Regions from separate parts of the Homo sapiens genome. Here region 1 is linked to region 2. Evidence: fine-mapped expression QTL. Tissue or cell type: whole blood. Region 2 holds a variant in brackets; the other region holds the start of a gene. All regions are shown on one strand. Distances are between the middles of the regions.

Region 1 (8,172 bases), 37 kb before region 2:
GAGGCCCTGGGGGGCCCGTTCCCCAGAAGCTGCCAGTGCTTTCAGATGCATTGACTCTTCCCGCCTCCCCTCCCTCAGAAAGGTAGTGCCCACACTATTTTTAAAATGTTATTTTATGCAATACACTGTTCCTAGTGAGCAGGGCTCTGGCCCTGAGGAGTCTTTGCAATGTATTGAAGGAATTGCTGCCGTGTGAGTTTTGAATGATTTTGCAGTAAAGACCTGATCTTTCTCATCACTGGTCTGGCTTCTGAATTCTAACACTGCCACGGCCAGGGGGGAGACCACCAGCCATCTGTTACCATCTGTCAGGGTCCCCTACCCTCATGTTAGTCCCTGGCACGGGGGAAGGCTTGGGAGGTCCGTGGCAAACACTTGTAGGCAGAGGGCTTGCATGCCAGGAGTGGGCAGGGAGAAGAGAGTAAGAAAACCACCTTGCCAAGCCCAGCAGTCAGGCTCTTCCTGGGGTAGGATCTCAGGGTCTCTGGGGAGGTGTACCCACACTTGTATAACAACTCAAGCTGATCCCACGCCGGTGGCTTCTTTTCCTGTGACTTAAATGTCAAAACACAGACCCTTGACACTGGATCATGTGAAACCTCAGGATACAGGGGACATTTCTCAGAGGAGAAATAAAGGAGAGATGGGGCTCAGGAAAGAAGGGTTATTTAAGTGGATCCCCCGATTCAGGGCTCATGGTTTTAGGGCTCAAAATGACTTTTACTTGGCTGCTGACCTTCCTCAGAAGTTCCAGGAGAAGCCCAGGGGACCCCTCCAAGGGGAGGCCCACACCACTGTCCATTTTAAGAACAGGAGCAGGAAACAGACTTAATTCTCAGGGAAATCAGGTTGCAGTAAAATGGGATGGAAACAGACAACATTCAGGTCTGAGATTTCCTGTCCTTAAAGGCCCCTTTCAGATTACAAGGTGGCACCCTCTGCCAATCTAGGTGCCCCAGCTTCCCCCAAGGGCTTCACCTCCCTCCAGGACAGTAGATGGTAGGCCCGGAGAAGAGAAGAGAAACTGGGAGAGGGAGGCCCAGAGGAGGGCCACAGCACGTGACCTGGTGCTGCCCTGCCGGTGGGTTCAGGCCCTCTCCAGCCTCAGCAAAGCGCCCCTGAGGCCACTTGTTTCCCCTTCTCCCCTCCCTTTTTTTTTTTTTTTTTTTTGGATACAGTCTCACTCCAATGCCCAGGCTGGAGTGCAGTGGCGTGATCTTGGCTCACTGCAACCTCCACTTCCCGGGTTCAAGCAATTCTCCTGCCTCAGCCTCCTGAGTAGCTGAGACTTCCCCTTTTCCTCTTCTCTCTGAAGGAGGACAGGTGGTTTGGAGATTCCAATCCAACCCCCAAGAGCTTATCATATAATGTAAGTAGTCATAATAGCTGATGTACCCCGGCATGGTGGCTCACACCTGTAATCCCAGCATTTTGGGAGGCCGAGGAGGTTGGATCATCTGAGGTCAGAAGTTCAAGACCAGCCTGGCCAACATGGTGAAACCCCGTCTCTACAAAAATACAAAAATTAACTGGGCATGATGGCGGGTGCCTGTAATCCCAGCTACTCAGGAAGCTGAGGCAGGAGAACCACTTGAACCCGGAGGCGGAGGTTGCAGTGAGCCAAGATCGTGCCGCTGCACTTCGGCCTGGGAGACAGAGTGAGACTCTGTCTTAAAAAAAATAGCTGATATATTGTGTGCGCTGGGCATGTGGTAAGCACTGCTTAGTGGACCTCATTTAATCTTCCCAATAATCCAGTGAAGTGGGTGTTACTATCCCATTGACAGGAAAGAAATCTGAGCTGCAGAGATAAGGCAGAACTCCCAAGGCCTACCAGCCGCCAAGCAGCAGAGTGGGGCATCATACCTGCCTGACCCCACGCAAAGACCATCACCACTGCCAGCCACTGCCTGGCTGTGCTGCAGGTGGAGAGGGACCTAAAAGGTAGGGAGGGAGAGAAGATTCCTCCAGCCACGATTTTCTTTTTTTCTTTTTTGGTTGTTGTTTTTTGAGACGGAGTCTTGCTCTGTCGCCCAGGCTGAAGTGCAGTGGCACGATCATGGCTCACGGCAGTCTCCGCCTCCCAGGTTCACACCATTCTCCTGCCTCAGCCTCCGGAGTAGCTGGGACTACAGGCTCCCGCCACCACGCCCGGCTAATGTTTTATATTTTTAGTAGAGACGGGGTTTCACCGTGTTAGCCGGGGTTTCACCGTGTTAGCCAGGGTTTCTCAATCTCCTGACCTCATGATCCGCCCGCCTCGGCCTCCCAAAGTGCTGGGATTATAGGCGTGAGCCACCGTGCCCGGCACCAGCCACTATTTTCTAAGCATGTCGGGCACCAAAGACCAGTGCTGAGTTCTGCTGTGTGCCCACCCTGGAGGGTCCCAAGGTGCCACCAAGGCTCAGACACACAGATTCTCAGAGGAAGTGTGGACTCACAGGTGGGCAATGCCTAGCAGAGGCAAAGATATAGAGGTAAGGGAGTTCCTTACTTACTATATCTTACAAAGATATAGAGGTAAGGGAGTTCCTTACTTACTATATCTTACAAAGATATAGAGGTAAGGGAGTTCCTCTGAATCTGGGTGGCCAGATTCAGCTTCCCACCCAACCCTGGGTCCCCAGGAGGTGGTGTCAAGAGAGGCCATGGCCTGGGATGCGGGCCCTTCTTCCTCCCAGAACACTGGCCTGAATCAGCCAGCTCTTGGCACACACAGCCAGGTCCACAGGCACAACTGTTCCTTGGGGCCCCTGAGGGCAGGGGGTGTGCTGGGGCTGTGGCTTGTAATGTCTGGAGTGAGTGCAGGCTCAGATCAGGGCGAGGCTGCTTGTCCAGAGAGGCAGAAAATTCTCCAACAGAAGACCCCCAAGGCGGAGGGCCCTGGGGCTGGACTCCTGGAGGTTGTTCTGAGCTTACCCTGTGGACGGATTGGAGGGTGGCCCTCCTTCCCCACAAGGATCAAGAGGGGGTGGGGGATGGTGGGAGGGCAATCTGGCCAGGCGAACCTGCGGGGGAGGCTCCCGCCCTCCCCAGTCCCACCATCTCAGCCCCGCAGCCTCTTTCTCCCTGGAGACAGCCAGGTGCGGCCCAGGATCCCGGGAAAGGCAGGGGAGGGGGTGGCGTCTTCGCTCCTCAGGCGCTGGCCCGGCCCAGAGGGGACAGGAAGCCAGGACACCGGGGATTGTCTCTCGCAACCGCAGCCCAGCCCCAGTCCGGGAGGAAGTTCTGCCCGGCGCTCTCCGCCGGTGCCTCCCTGGTTATATTGTTGAACAGGAAACCCGGCAGCGCGGGAGCCGCACAGTCGAGGAGGGAGCGCGGGACGCCGAGCCCACGCGCGCCTGCCGGGGCAAGTGGAGGCGAAGCCGGCGAGCGGACGCCCCGAGGTGCCCGGGCAGGCAGGGTCGGGAGTGGGGCGCCGAGCGGGGGTTGGGGGTGGGAAGTGGGGTGGGGGTGGGGAAAGGGCAGGGTTGGGAAGGGAAGGGTGCGGCAGGTGGCGGGTCCGCACCCGGGAGCTCCGCGCGCCTGCTCCCCTTGTCTCCGCGCTGGGGCGGGAGCTGCGCGGGCCGCATCCCACGGGGAGGAGAAGGTAGGCGAAGGGCTGCCCTCCATCTGGGGGCTGGAGGGAAGCAGGCCCAGGCCCCCAGCGCCGACCCAGGCGTTGACGCCCCTGTAGCTTGAGTCGCCTGGGCAGTGGACGCAGGGGACCTCCTGGCGACTGGTGCGCTGTCGCGCTCCAGGGATCCTCCCGGCTTCCCCAATCCCTCCCCTTCTCTGCGTTTCCCCAGGGTCGGGGAAGGAACCGAGGTCCGGTCCCCTTCTTATCCAGCCCGAGACATCGAGCTCCGGTGGGCGTCCCTGCGCTGGGAATCCCGCTCGGAGTTTTTCCAGGCCCGGCCGGGCTGCTCCGGGAAAGGCCCTGGTGAGGGAAGAGGTGGGCCCGGAGCGGGCGGATTTGCAATCCGGTTGGAAGGGCTCGCAGTGGGTGATTCAGGGTGCAAATGACCTCCCCGGGAACAGGAACGCCCGCACGAGACAACCAGCCCCAGCCCGGCATTCCCAGAGCCGCGCACAGGAGGGACGCAGGCACTCCCGGACAGCAAATCCCGGGGGGTGGGGGGTGGGGGGGCGGGGAATAGAGGGGGAAGGCGGAGCGGGGGCGGTCCCATCCTCCTTGGGCTCCGCTCGCGACCTGCCAGTGCCCCTTCAGACGCAGCAGTCCCGGCTCCAGGTGCCGGCCTTCTGCTCTGGGCCTCGTCCCAATGCCCCCCAAGGTCCCCAGCAGAGGCATTCAGGCTCCTCCTCGCCCCACCCAGACACGGCTGCTTTGGGTATCGGTGACAGCACTCCTGAGCGTCCCTGTCCCTCTTCGCTCTGCTTGCCAGCTCCTGTTCCGCGCAGCCTCTCCGGCCTCGCCCCTGGAAACCCCGCCCAGGGCGATGGTAGGGGCCTAACCTGCAGCCACCGCCGGCTCCGCCCACCCAGCCCATGGGCTCCCTGAGGCCCGCCCAGCCGACGTGAGTGCGCTGCGGGGTCCAAGGGGAGGGGGCGCCGGGGGAGTGTCCTGCTTGGGGTTTGTTGGTTCAGCACCGGGCAGCTCGATGACCCCGCCTCCGGGGCCCAGCGTGCTTAGTGACTCAGTTTACACCCTTTCCTCGTCGAGGAACGCTTGACAAAGTGGCGGAGGAGCCCTGCTGGGGCCCCCGTTGGAACCTGCTCCTCTGCCTCGGCAAGCGGCGGTCTCCTGGCCCCGGGTCCGGGCCACCTTAGGGGGCAGGAAGAGGTGTGGTCAGTGTGGGAGTTTGGAGGGGCCATGCACTTCCGGAGAAAACCGACTCATGGCTTTGGTGGAGGGGCGCAGACAGATTTAGTTAGGCTCTCCCCCATCCCTGACACCCCGAAGCCCGGGCGGGAGCGGGGCTTATGACCACCACTCCGGAGAGCTTTGGGTGGCCCTGCTCTGGGACTCCGCACTTATAGTCACTGTCTCAGAGTGCATTCTCCAGGAGCCACTCGTGGGGACACTGTAGGGGTCACAGGGCAGGTGGACAGGCCACAGGGGCAGGGCCTTTCTCGGGGGGCGGCGTGAGAGCTGGAGAGCAGGGGGCGGTGCGGGCCGGGCTGGGCGGGCCGGGCTCGGGCTCACGTCTGCGGTGATGCAGCTGGGGAAGGAAAGAGAAACCGAGAGAACCGGTTCCCCTGCATTGGCAGCGGAGGCCTCTACAGCAAGGCCCTCGGACTAAGGGGGGCAGCGACAGCCCCCAGGTAGAGCTGTTCGCTCGGCCCCCTACAGAGCCCACATTCCAACTCTGACCAGGGGGTCGGGGCGCAAGCTGCTGGAGGGAGGCAGTGCTACGAGACCCTCTGCTGATTCTCTGCGGGCGGGAGGCTTCCAGGCGGGACAGAGCCGGGGAGCGGCAGTAAATGGGGTGTTCTTCCTACTTGACTGACGGAAAACTAAGGCGCAGTCAACTATTAAGCAAGCGTGGTGTCGACCTTAGAGCGGGCAATCACCCCTCGTTTTAAAGCCAAGGCTTCCCTCGCAGTCGATTTGGACCAAGACTACCCACAATCTCCCCACCGCAGGACTGAAGCAAGGGTCAAATCTTAGAATCAACCCCACAGAACGAAGGGCTGTCCTAATTCCAGCACTGAGTGTAAGAATGGAAGCCTTACATGTGATTTTATGCAAGTTCCCATTTTAGAGATGGGAAAACTGAGGCCCGAAGGCGAACGGCGAGTGCAGGATCGGGACTCGAACCCAAGTCTGTCCCCGAGTGCGGGGCTATTCCAGGCTCGGTGGTCTTGACCTCCGCGGCCCTCCTTCTTGTTGCCCGCAGGAAAACGCCGCGGCTGCGATGGCGGCGGACGTGGTGGGGGACGTGTACGTGCTGGTGGAGCACCCCTTCGAGTACACCGGCAAGGACGGGCGCCGCGTGGCCATCCGGCCGAATGAGCGCTACCGGCTGCTGCGGCGCAGCACCGAGCACTGGTGGCACGTGCGGCGTGAGCCCGGCGGCCGCCCCTTCTACCTGCCTGCGCAGTACGTGCGCGAGCTGCCCGCGCTGGGCAACCCTGCCGCCGCCGCGCCGCCAGGTCCCCACCCGAGCCCCGCGGCCCCTGAGCCGCTCGCCTACGACTACCGGTTTGTGAGCGCGGCGGCGACCGCGGGCCCCGACGGCGCCCCCGAGGAGTCCGGAGGCCGAGCCAGCTCCCTGTGCGGCCCTGCGCAACGCGGCGCCGCGACCCAGCGCAGCAGCCTGGCGCCCGGCCTGCCAGCCTGCCTGTACCTGCGGCCCGCGGCGCCCGTGCGGCCCGCGCAGTCCCTGAACGACCTGGCCTGCGCCGCCGTCTCGCCTCCCGCCGGCCTCCTAGGAAGCAGCGGCAGCTTCAAGGCCTGCAGCGTGGCGGGCTCCTGGGTGTGCCCGCGGCCTCTGGCGCGCAGCGACTCAGAGAACGTCTACGAGGTCATCCAGGACTTGCACGTCCCGCCGCCGGAGGAGAGCGCAGAGCAGGTACCTCCCCGGGCGCTGGGGCGCGGAGGCGGGTGGCGCGCTAGGGACCGCGCCCGCACGGAGCCGGGGCGCAAGGAGACCCGCTCCGCTCAGCGTCGGGCACGACGCCCACCTCTGTCCGAAGACTTCGGATGAGCTCCCTCTCCCCAACCGCGAAACGTGAGGGGTGCACGCCCGCAGTCCCTCATCAGCAATTCCCAAGCTCCAAAGCTCCCTGGAAGCCCAGAGGCTTTTCGTAATCCAATTGGTGGCAAAATTGCGCTTGAACTGATGTGAGGCTGCTGATGGTCTTTATTTATCGCACTTGTGTGAATATTCATGTTTCGCTGCAGAAATGCAAATGAGCTCGATGGTCGGCTGCTGCCCCAAGCCCTGCTGGGAGGTTATATAACCTACTGCAGGTGTGTGCCCCATATTATCTTTCCAAGTCCCAGCTGTTCTGTATTCCGAAGCGCATCTGGGCACGGAACGGGGGATTGCGGGCCTGCCCCGGCCCAACCGACTTGCCCGTCTCCCAGGAGTCTGGGGTCAGATGAGAGGGTGGATGTGAAAGTCAGGCGTCTGCTTCCCTTTGAGGGTGCTTCCAGCATTTCAGTTCCTTTTTTTAAAGAACTCTTGATGGGTTTGTTTCAGAAAGACGTCCGGTTAAGTGAGGTTGTTTTTTTCCCCCTCTTCAGAGTCCAGTTGTGTTCATCTGGGAAATCGAAAATAGAGCACGTTTTAAAAACAGGTCTTACATCCTCAGAACACTCTAGGCGACCCTGACATTTTGAACTTTAGGAACTTTTCAGAGAGGGGCAGCCCGAGGGGAAAAAAAGATGCTCAGAACCGTTCTGCCATCTGCCACCGGCCGTGTGATGATCTAGGGGCAGTTCTTTTCCTCTCTTAGGGTCTCGGTTTGTTCTTTAGCCCAAAGGGAGGGGTTGGACAGATGACCTCTGATCCTCGGGAGCCTCTGATTTCTTTCGCTGTACCTGATGTCATTACCATGAACACTGATGCCCACTATGTGCCAGGACTGAGTCCGGGATGCCCAGACGAAGGAGACACGCCTCCGTAGGCCCGCTGCTGGGTGTTCCCTCCGCCCGACTCGTTACAATGCAGAGCTCAGGTTTTGAGACTAGGGAAAGGGGAACTGGATTCTGCTGGGTCACCTGCCAGCTGCTGACAGCCACTTAACTTACACGCGAGGACGTTCCCCCAGGCCCAGCGTCCTCTGGTGTAAGCACAATACTTAAGGATTAGGGTTGTGAGCCTTAAACGAGGTAAGGCTTCGAAGCGCTTGACAGCAGCAGGGGGTCCACCCAGGCTGTCTGGGTAGTCCTGGTTTGGCTTCCCTGGGTCTCCGCCGCCTTCACTCAGGCTTCTGCAGCGGTAGCCCGCCGCCTTGTGGCCAGGGTGGGGAACGGCACCCGGCGGGCGGGGCTGGGCACTGCCACTCTGTCCTAGTGACGGTGGGAGGGTGCCTGCCCATCTGAGCAGAGCCCCTGGAGGTGGGGGAATGGCCTTGCTCTTTGAACCTCGCATCTGGCCCAGGGTCTGGCTCAAACAGAGTGCACAGAGAGTGTGTGTTGAGAAGCGCAGAGGTGCGGCAGCCCTTTACCTATGAGCCAGGGCTCTGTAGGTCTGCAAGGGCCAACACCCCAGGCCCCAGGAC
Region 2 (8,172 bases):
TCTGCCTCCCGGGTTCAAGCGATTCTCCTGCCTCAGCCTCCCGAGTAGCTGGGACTACAGGTGCGTGCCACCAGGCCCAGCTAATTTTTTGCATTTTTAGTAGTGGCAGGGTTTCACTGTGTTAGCCAGAATGGTCTCCATCTCCTGACCTCATGATCCACCCGCCTCAGCCTCCCAAAGTGCTGGGATTACAGGCATGAGCCACTGCGCCCAGCCTCATTTCATTTTAAAAAGCAGTTTAAATAGTCTTCAAGTATAAGTTTAAAAGGACAGCAAAGATAGTCCAATCCAATTCTAGAAGTTGTGTCCTGGGGTCTGAGACAGTTTCTGTTGTCTCTGACTCTCGCTGAACCAAAAGGGCAGGGTTGGTGTGAGCTGTTGCCGCCAAACATTCACATTAACCTGGAACACTGGGTCCTCAGAGCCAGAGGCTGATAAGGAATCCAACTAAGCTGCCATCCAACTCAGAAAGGGCTTTGAGCGTCAGTCCTATGGTGGCAAGTTTCCCTCTGGTGTTCTGTTTAATTTATGCTTCATGATGAAGCGGGCTAACAGAAGATGTGTTGCCCAGGCTGGAGTGTGGGAGGTGGTGGGGACTCCTGGCTGCAGAAGGTGGGACAACGTTTCTGAGTCCTCAGTGTGTGTATGGGGAGGGGCAAGGGGAGACCTTTCTTTCCCTGGGATCAGCCATGATCAGCTTTCAAATCCTCTCTCCCTATATTCACTGTTGCTTCTAGTAGACAGGGGTCTCAACATAGGAAGTTTCTGGGTTTTGTTTTGTTTTTTTTTTTTTGAGACGGAGTCTTGCTCTGTCGCCCAGGGTGAAGTGCAGTGGCATGATCTCGGCTCACGGTAACCTCCGCTTCCCGGGTTCAAGCAGTTCTTCTGCCTCAGCTTCCCAAGTAGCTGGGATTACAGGAGCCCGCCACCATGCCTGGCTAATTTTTGTATTTTTAGTAGAGACGGGGTTTCACCATGTTGGCCAGGCTGGTCTCAAACTCCTGACCTCATGATCTGCCCGCCTCGGCCTCCCAAAGTGCTGGGATTACAGGTATGAGCCATCGTGCCTGGCCTCACATAGGAAGTTTCTTTCACTTAGTTTGCAGGCCAGTGCTCTGCATGAGGCCTGCCATGTTCTGTGGCTTGCAGGGAGGCAGGATGGGGGAGGGAAAGTGTACCAGACAATTGAGCCATGCAGCTCTGTGCTCATCACTCACTAGCTGTGTGCCCATGAGGAAGCAGCTAAAACTTGCTGAGCCTCAGTTTGCTCATCTGTAACACAGAGATGCTGTCAGCCACTGCTTTACGTGAGGCAGAGATCCAAGACTTAGCCTGGGGTGAGGCCCTTGCTCCATTAAGCTCTGAGTGCCTGGGGGCAGGGACAGGTCACCTCTATCTCTGTACCTACCCCCAACTAGGGCCAACCCCCAGGGCAGACCCAGGGTACCAGAGATGACCCACTGACTTGTGTCCCTCCAGCTACGGAGCCGAGATGGCTCTGAGTACCTGATCCAGCACGACTCGGAGGCCATCATCAGCACCTGGCATAAGGCCATTGCTCAGGGCATCCAGGAGCTGGTAAGCAGAGCCCAGGGCCTCTAGGGGCAGTGGGGAGGGGGTGGCCATTATGAGTGGGGCCCTCTGCTCAGGCTCAGGGAGCTCTAAGGTACCAGTGGGTAATGCAAATGCAGTCCCCACTAATGGCTAGGATGGCAGGGTAGGCGGCTGAAGAAACTGCCTTCTGTAAGTCTGTGAATCCAGCCCTGGGGTTGGCCCTGCAGGAAGACTCTCCAGGTGAGGGTAGGGCACATTCTAAAGGAAGTTCCCATTTCACGGGAGGCAGAAGGCCAAATAAATACTCTGCAAGCCAACCAATGGCAGGCTGAAACTAGCAGATAAAATTTTAAAGGATTGATTTCAATAGTCGACCATTTTTTTAAGGCTGAAAACACCAATTGCATAAGTAGAGCTAGGACAGGGGCCCTCTGACAACTACTGACCTGGAAATGACCTGGGGCTTTTTGACCCTTAATTCCCTATGAGCCAACATTGAGTGAAGCTTTTGGCTGTATTAATAGAGGTAGGAATCCAGAGCCAGAGAGGTGATATTGGTGCAGTTGTTGGCAGTGCTCCGGCCACAGCTGGAGGTGCAGGCTCAGAACTGGGAGCCACGTATTGAGGAATGCTGACCCAGTTAGAGGAGCTGAGGAAAATAGAGAAAGAAGGCACCAGGTGGGTAGGAGTCCCCAGGATAGGAAGGGGTGTGGGAGAACAGGATGACTGTCTCTGCACCTTAAGGGCTCCATGCAGCTAAGGGAGGTGAATGTTCTCAGGCTCACTGGTGGAGGTAAGGAGAGTTAACCTGGTTAAGGGAAGAGAGGACTCTTCGCTGAGGGTCTCCAGGCCATGCCTGTTGGGAGTGCATTTCGGGTCCCTTGCCCCATCCTGGAAGGACCCGCAGCTGGCTCAAGGCCCCGCCTCTCTGAGGCTATGGGAATCCAGTCCGCAGAGCTGCCCCCAGAGGAGAGCGAGAGCAGCAGAGTGGACTTCGGGTCGAGCGAGCGCTTGGGAAGCTGGCAGGAGAAAGAGGAGGACGCGCGACCGAATGCAGGTGTGCGCAAGGCAGGATGGGGTGGGGGCTCCAGGAGGCCTCTCCTGGGGAGTGACGGTTGCTGGGGCCTGCCTGGCCTGCCCTGGCGCTGCCTCCTGACTCAGTCCTGCCTTTCCCCGCGGCAGCCGCGCCCGCCCTGGGCCCCGTGGGCCTGGAGAGCGACTTGAGCAAGGTCCGGCACAAGCTCCGCAAGTTCCTCCAGAGGCGGCCCACACTGCAGTCGCTGCGGGAGAAGGGCTACATCAAAGGTACCCGAGGCCTGCGGGGGGCGGGGACCCGGGACCGGGACGGGGCGCAGGCTGGGCAGGAGCTGATGAGCCTCTGCCCTAGACCAGGTGTTCGGCTGCGCGCTGGCCGCGCTGTGTGAGCGCGAGAGGAGCCGGGTGCCACGCTTCGTGCAGCAGTGCATCCGCGCCGTCGAGGCCCGCGGTACGTGCGCTGCGGGGGTGAGGGCGGCAGGCATTGGGGTGCCCGCAGGCCTCCTGCCAGGACCGCAGGCTGGAGACCCCTGGATGGACGCAGGGTCCAGGGGGAAAGTACGGGAGGCCCCGAGTGGGAGTCATAGCAGGGACCCGTAGCCCCACCCTATCCCCATCCCTGAACCCGGGATCAGCGCCTCCCTCTGGCCCAGGGCTGGACATCGACGGGCTGTACCGCATCAGTGGAAACCTGGCCACCATCCAGAAGCTACGCTATAAGGTGGACCACGGTGAGGCCCGTCCCCAACCCCTGCCCCAGGGCCTGAAGGCGCAAGGGGTACTGATTTCCCTTCCGTCCTCCTCCCTTCCTCCGCCACAGATGAGCGCCTTGACCTGGATGACGGGCGCTGGGAGGACGTCCACGTTATCACCGGAGCCCTGAAGCTCTTCTTTCGGGAGCTGCCCGAGCCCCTCTTCCCCTTCTCGCACTTCCGCCAGTTCATTGCGGCCATCAGTGAGCACCTGGGGCAGGTGGGGCGGATGGGGTAGGGGCGTGGCGGGGCACCCCTTTAGCAGGCTCCCCTCGCCCAGCCGATACCCCCTACCTCCCGTTCCGACTCCCTCCCTCTAAACCTTCCCTCACCCAGAGTTGCAGGACCAGGCCCGGCGCAGCCGCTGTGTGCGTGACTTGGTGCGCTCGCTGCCCGCTCCCAACCACGACACTCTGCGGATGCTCTTCCAGCACCTCTGCCGGTGAGCCGGGCGGCCCGCGCGGGAAGGGGGAGGCAGGTCCCGGCTGAAGCCCCCAGCGCCTCCCCGCAGTTCGCAGTTCGGAGCCCTGAACCCACCCACCCCTGCCACAGGGTGATCGAGCACGGCGAGCAGAACCGCATGTCGGTGCAGAGCGTGGCCATTGTGTTCGGGCCCACGCTGCTGCGGCCCGAGGTGGAAGAGACCAGCATGCCCATGACCATGGTGTTCCAGAACCAGGTGGTGGAGCTCATCCTGCAGCAGTGCGCGGACATCTTCCCGCCGCA[C/G]TGACTGCTGGCCTGTGACTGGGGCGGCGGCCGCGGTCCTGCCACACAAGCTGGGCGGCGGAGGCCACGCAGCCGGGCCTTCTTCTCTCTGGGACCCTCCGCCAGCGCATAGCCGCAGGCCGGTGTGACTTCTGCACCCTCGGTTCTGAGGGTACGGTGACCCCTAGTGGGCAGTTTGCAAAATGTGATTCCTTCTTCCCAACTCCCCATCCCCCCTTCCCTTCCCGTCACGTCCTGTTTGGGGGTTAATTCGGTTTTTTCTCTGTTGCATCGCGCCTACTGTGCGTGTGCGATAGCGTGTGTGGGGGTGAGAGTTTGTTTTCTGGAATGGTAGGTGCTGGGAGGAGGAGTTTGATGGAGGGCTTCCTGGCTGCTTCTGGCCCTCACCTCGTGGAGGCCTTCACAGAGACCCTGTGGGCCCTGGCCCTGTGCTGGCACTGTGCCAGTCATGAGGCAGCTCTGATCACTTCCCCACTGTGGAAACAGGACTGACCCAGCCTTCAGTGTGGGCTGCTGAAGCTATCCTCCTCAGGCCTCAGGGATGACCTCCTGCCTGAGCCTCTCACAGGCTGGCTGTGGGCCAGTTTCATCTGCTTTCCTGTTGGGGGTCCCGGGCCTCTGCTGTCCTTGACCCACTGGTGTTCTGTGCAAGGCTTCTTCCCATTCACCAAGTGCACACCTTGCATCTGCCGCTCGGCATGCACCAGTTCCACACACCATCCCATTTTACAGACAAGGACGCTGAGGCCTGCAGCAGCAGTGTGACTTGCTCAAGGTCCAGTGAGTGACCTCATTCCCCAGAAAAGGCTCCTCCCACACCAGAGTACAGCCTGGGTAGGGGGAAAATCAGTTCTTTCAGCTACCACCCATCCAACCTTTGGGCCTATGTGAAAAGAAAGGAACTAAGCTGGGTGTGTTCTGTCTGGACCTGGGGAGGCCCCTGAAGGCAAAGAGGGAAACTGTCCCAGCTGTTCTGTCCTAGGGGAGGGGGACATAGCCCTAGCAGGAGCTCCCAGCCCCTCTTGGCACTCTGACACACAAGTACACCCATCTGGGGCCCGCTTTGCCACGAAGAGCTGGGCAGGCCTGCAGGGTGTGGGGAAGGAGGACACAACCTCAAGAAAGGAAGCGTGAACCCCAGGGAACAGCGGGTCCCTTCCCTCCTCAGACACAAGCCACCTCAGCTTGTGGCTCTTGGCCCCCAGCCCCACCAACCCACCTGTTCATTTATTCAACAGACAATGACAGCTGATATTTATTGGACATTTGCACCATGCCAAGCATTCGGCTTGGATTATCCCATTTGTTTCTCACAGCCGGTATTTATTGTCTGCTCCTCTGTGCCAGGTGCTGTGCTCTGGGCAGGGGCACTGCATGGGCTGCCTGCCCTGGTGGAGCTTGTGGTCTGATGGGTGAGGCTGACCCAAGCCCACCCCATTGCCAACAGGGCCAGGGCAAGAGTACACACAGGGGCCTCATACCATATGTCTAAATATTTAAAAGTTATCAATCAAGCTAACAACTGTTAAATAAAATATGTTCTATTCTCCTACTTTGACAAATGTGTCTTGATAATGACCTGGAAGGCCAGGTTCTAATTTAAACTTCTTTGACTTTTCCAAGTTCCATGCCCAAATGTGGTGGCCGGAGAAGGGCAGGCCCTGGGCTCAGCCTTCCCTCTCATCTTCCCTCCCACAGAGCCCTCCTCCCCCAAGCAGAGGCTCACGGGCACATATGTGGACATCGTAGTCCATGTGTGCCAACTGCCCATACCCCCTGCAGCCAGCTGCCGCTTGGCTACCCCACTGGTGACGTAGTCCACCCTTGAGGGAATGGGCTTGGAGCTATTTGGGCGGGGCATGCTGGGGCCCCATGTATCAGAAGCATGTTCTAAAGGGCAGGTCCAGGCTTCAAGAGGGCTCCCCAGATTCCTCACCCTGTGGGGAGAGCCACAGACACAGGAGCCTTCTCCTGCAAGAGGACCCATGGCAGGGACCCCTCTCATTTGAGTCCAAGGGTGAAACTAGATAGACAGTAAGCAGATAATTACTTGGTTATCACATTTGTACAAGAGCTAGCAGAAGTGTAGAGTGCTCGGAAGGTGTGTCATGGGGTGTGAATGTTGCCCAGGGACCTGAGATGCTTCTGCAGAAGCCACATTTGAGAGAAGCAGTAAAGAATGAAGAGGAGTCGAGCAGAGGGGTTAAGGGAAGGGTGCTAGTCAGTGGGAGTGGCATGTGTAAAGGCTCTGGGGCAGGAAAGCTTGTGGGGAGAACAAAATCTGAGAGAAGACCATTGTAACTGGAGCCCAGAAAACCAGGGAGCATGGGTATGAGGTGAGGCTGGAGAGCTGTAAGGGACAGAGCATGTGGGGCCTTAAGGCCAAGGACATTGGGTCCCCAAGACAAGGAGCTGAAAGGCAGGGAGATCTTGGAAAGGTGTCCGCTCACCATCTCCTTCACCACCCCAGGCTTCTGACCCTGCCAAGGCCTCAGTGGGCAAATAATACAGCAGCAGGCAGAGAGGTCCTAGAATTATCACATTTTTGTCATGAAGGGGAGCTTCAGAAATCACCTACCACCAATGAGGAAACCTCTAGAGAGAACATCATAAATCACCTGCAGCCACATGGCAGGTTGGTGGCAGAACCTGGCCCAGAGCTTCATTTGCACAGTCTAGGGACCTACCGTGCCCCTCACCAGAAGTCCGAGGCTCAGTCATACGTCCCCAGCCCTGAGCACATGCATGGTGAGCACTGTAGGTGTGCATCGAATAGGTTTGGAATGAATTGGATTGTTCTGAAACACAAAGAATGTAGAAGTGGTGTCTTCCCTCTTGAAGCTCCGTCTGGATGGGGAGAGCTATAAAAAGGAGCGACAGTGGCACAGCTGATAAGGGCTGCCACGGGGATCTCTCCCCAAGCCCACTGCCTCTCAGCAGATGCCCTTAAGTCCTCCTGCAGCCTATAGTCTGCCCCTGAAGCTACTCTCAGAAAGGCCATGGTGCCCACTTGGTTGCTAAGTCTGGGGACGTGCCCAATCCTGTGCAAGTAAACACATGGACTGTCTGTTGTCCTTCTTGAGACATGGACTGTCTGTTCCTTTGCCTGCAGCAACATGGGGTTTCCTTTTTCTTTTTCTTTCTTTTTTTTTTTTTTTTGTTTGAGACAAGGTCTCACTCTGTTGCCCAGGCTGGAGTGCAGTGGTGCGATCATAGCTCACTGCAGCCCCAACCTCCCAGGCTCAAACCATCCTCTTGCCTCAGCCTCTCAAGCAGCTGGAACCACAGGCACACACCACCATGCCTGACTTTTTGTAGAGATGGGATCTCACTGTGTTACTCAGGCTGGTCTCAAACTCCTGGCCTCCAGTGATCCTCCTGCCTCAGCCTCCCAAGGCACTGAGATTACAGTATGAGTCACTGTGCCTGGCTTACATGAGTCTTCTCTACCACTCCACCCCTCCCTTCTCAGCTCCCTGTGTGCTCTGCTTGCCCTATACATGGTGATGCCCCCACTCCCAGATTGTGCCCTTGGCCCGCTTCTCTCTCCCTTCCACCATCCGTCATCCATTCCACCCTGCAGACTCAGCCACCAAGCCTGCACTGGTGTCACCCAAATCTCTAGCACCAGCTTGGAGTGCTCTCTCGCGAGTCATGTGCAAAATCTACCTGCTCAGGAGACACTTCCATGTGGATGGCTGCCAGACACCCAAAGTGCAACCCATCTGCAACAAAGCTCAAACCACCCCTGCTCCCTGTCTCTGAGCATGGCAGCCCCAGTCCCCAGAGTCCCAATCTTCTACTCCTAAATATGTCCCATCCTCCATCAGTCTCCCTCATCTGGGTGATCACAGCAGCCTCTGAATGGGTGCTCTCCTCCCCATTTAATCCTCCACCCAGCAGCCACCCCTCCCACCTATGCATACCAGCTGTGCCCACGCTGCCCCGGGACACTCCAGGTTGCTTCTTGCCTCGATACTTTTGGGCCAACAGTCTTCCTGCCTCCTTCCCTTTCCCCTGGCCAGTTCCTCCTCCTCCTCCCCCAAGCCTCAGCTCACACCTGCCCCCTACACCCTCCTCAGATCTCATGCGTGTGTCTCTCTCA

Evidence for each region. PIP is the estimated chance that this variant, and not a neighbour inherited with it, causes the effect.
Region 1: ARHGAP27 starts here. The variant in region 2 is fine-mapped to the expression of ARHGAP27 in whole blood (TOPMed, PIP above 0.99).

What each region holds. Positions count from the first base shown.
Region 1 is chr17:45,427,966-45,436,137 of GRCh38, reverse strand. It overlaps ARHGAP27 (Rho GTPase activating protein 27), which reads left to right and starts at 3,268. Exons shown (of 20, transcript NM_001282290.2): 1 at 3,268-3,386; 2 at 3,789-3,922; 3 at 4,386-4,517; 4 at 5,841-6,515. The coding sequence starts at 5,859. PLEKHM1 (pleckstrin homology and RUN domain containing M1) reads left to right here. Exons shown (of 12, transcript NM_014798.3): 12 at 1-238. LOC124904016 (a long non-coding RNA gene) reads right to left here and starts at 7,575. Exons shown (of 2, transcript XR_007065825.1): 1 at 7,490-7,575; 2 at 6,789-7,209. RefSeq lists enhancers at 1-299, 5,483-5,983, 5,984-6,484.
Region 2 is chr17:45,391,355-45,399,526 of GRCh38, reverse strand. It overlaps ARHGAP27 (Rho GTPase activating protein 27), which reads left to right. Exons shown (of 20, transcript NM_001282290.2): 13 at 1,480-1,578; 14 at 2,503-2,611; 15 at 2,737-2,859; 16 at 2,942-3,040; 17 at 3,243-3,320; 18 at 3,410-3,544; 19 at 3,678-3,783; 20 at 3,894-5,619. The coding sequence ends at 4,071. Among named protein-coding and RNA genes, the nearest start is that of ARHGAP27, 37 kb to the left of the region's middle. RefSeq lists a silencer at 3,618-3,775 and an enhancer at 4,407-5,066. The variant C/G (reference allele first, on the strand shown) is at 4,068.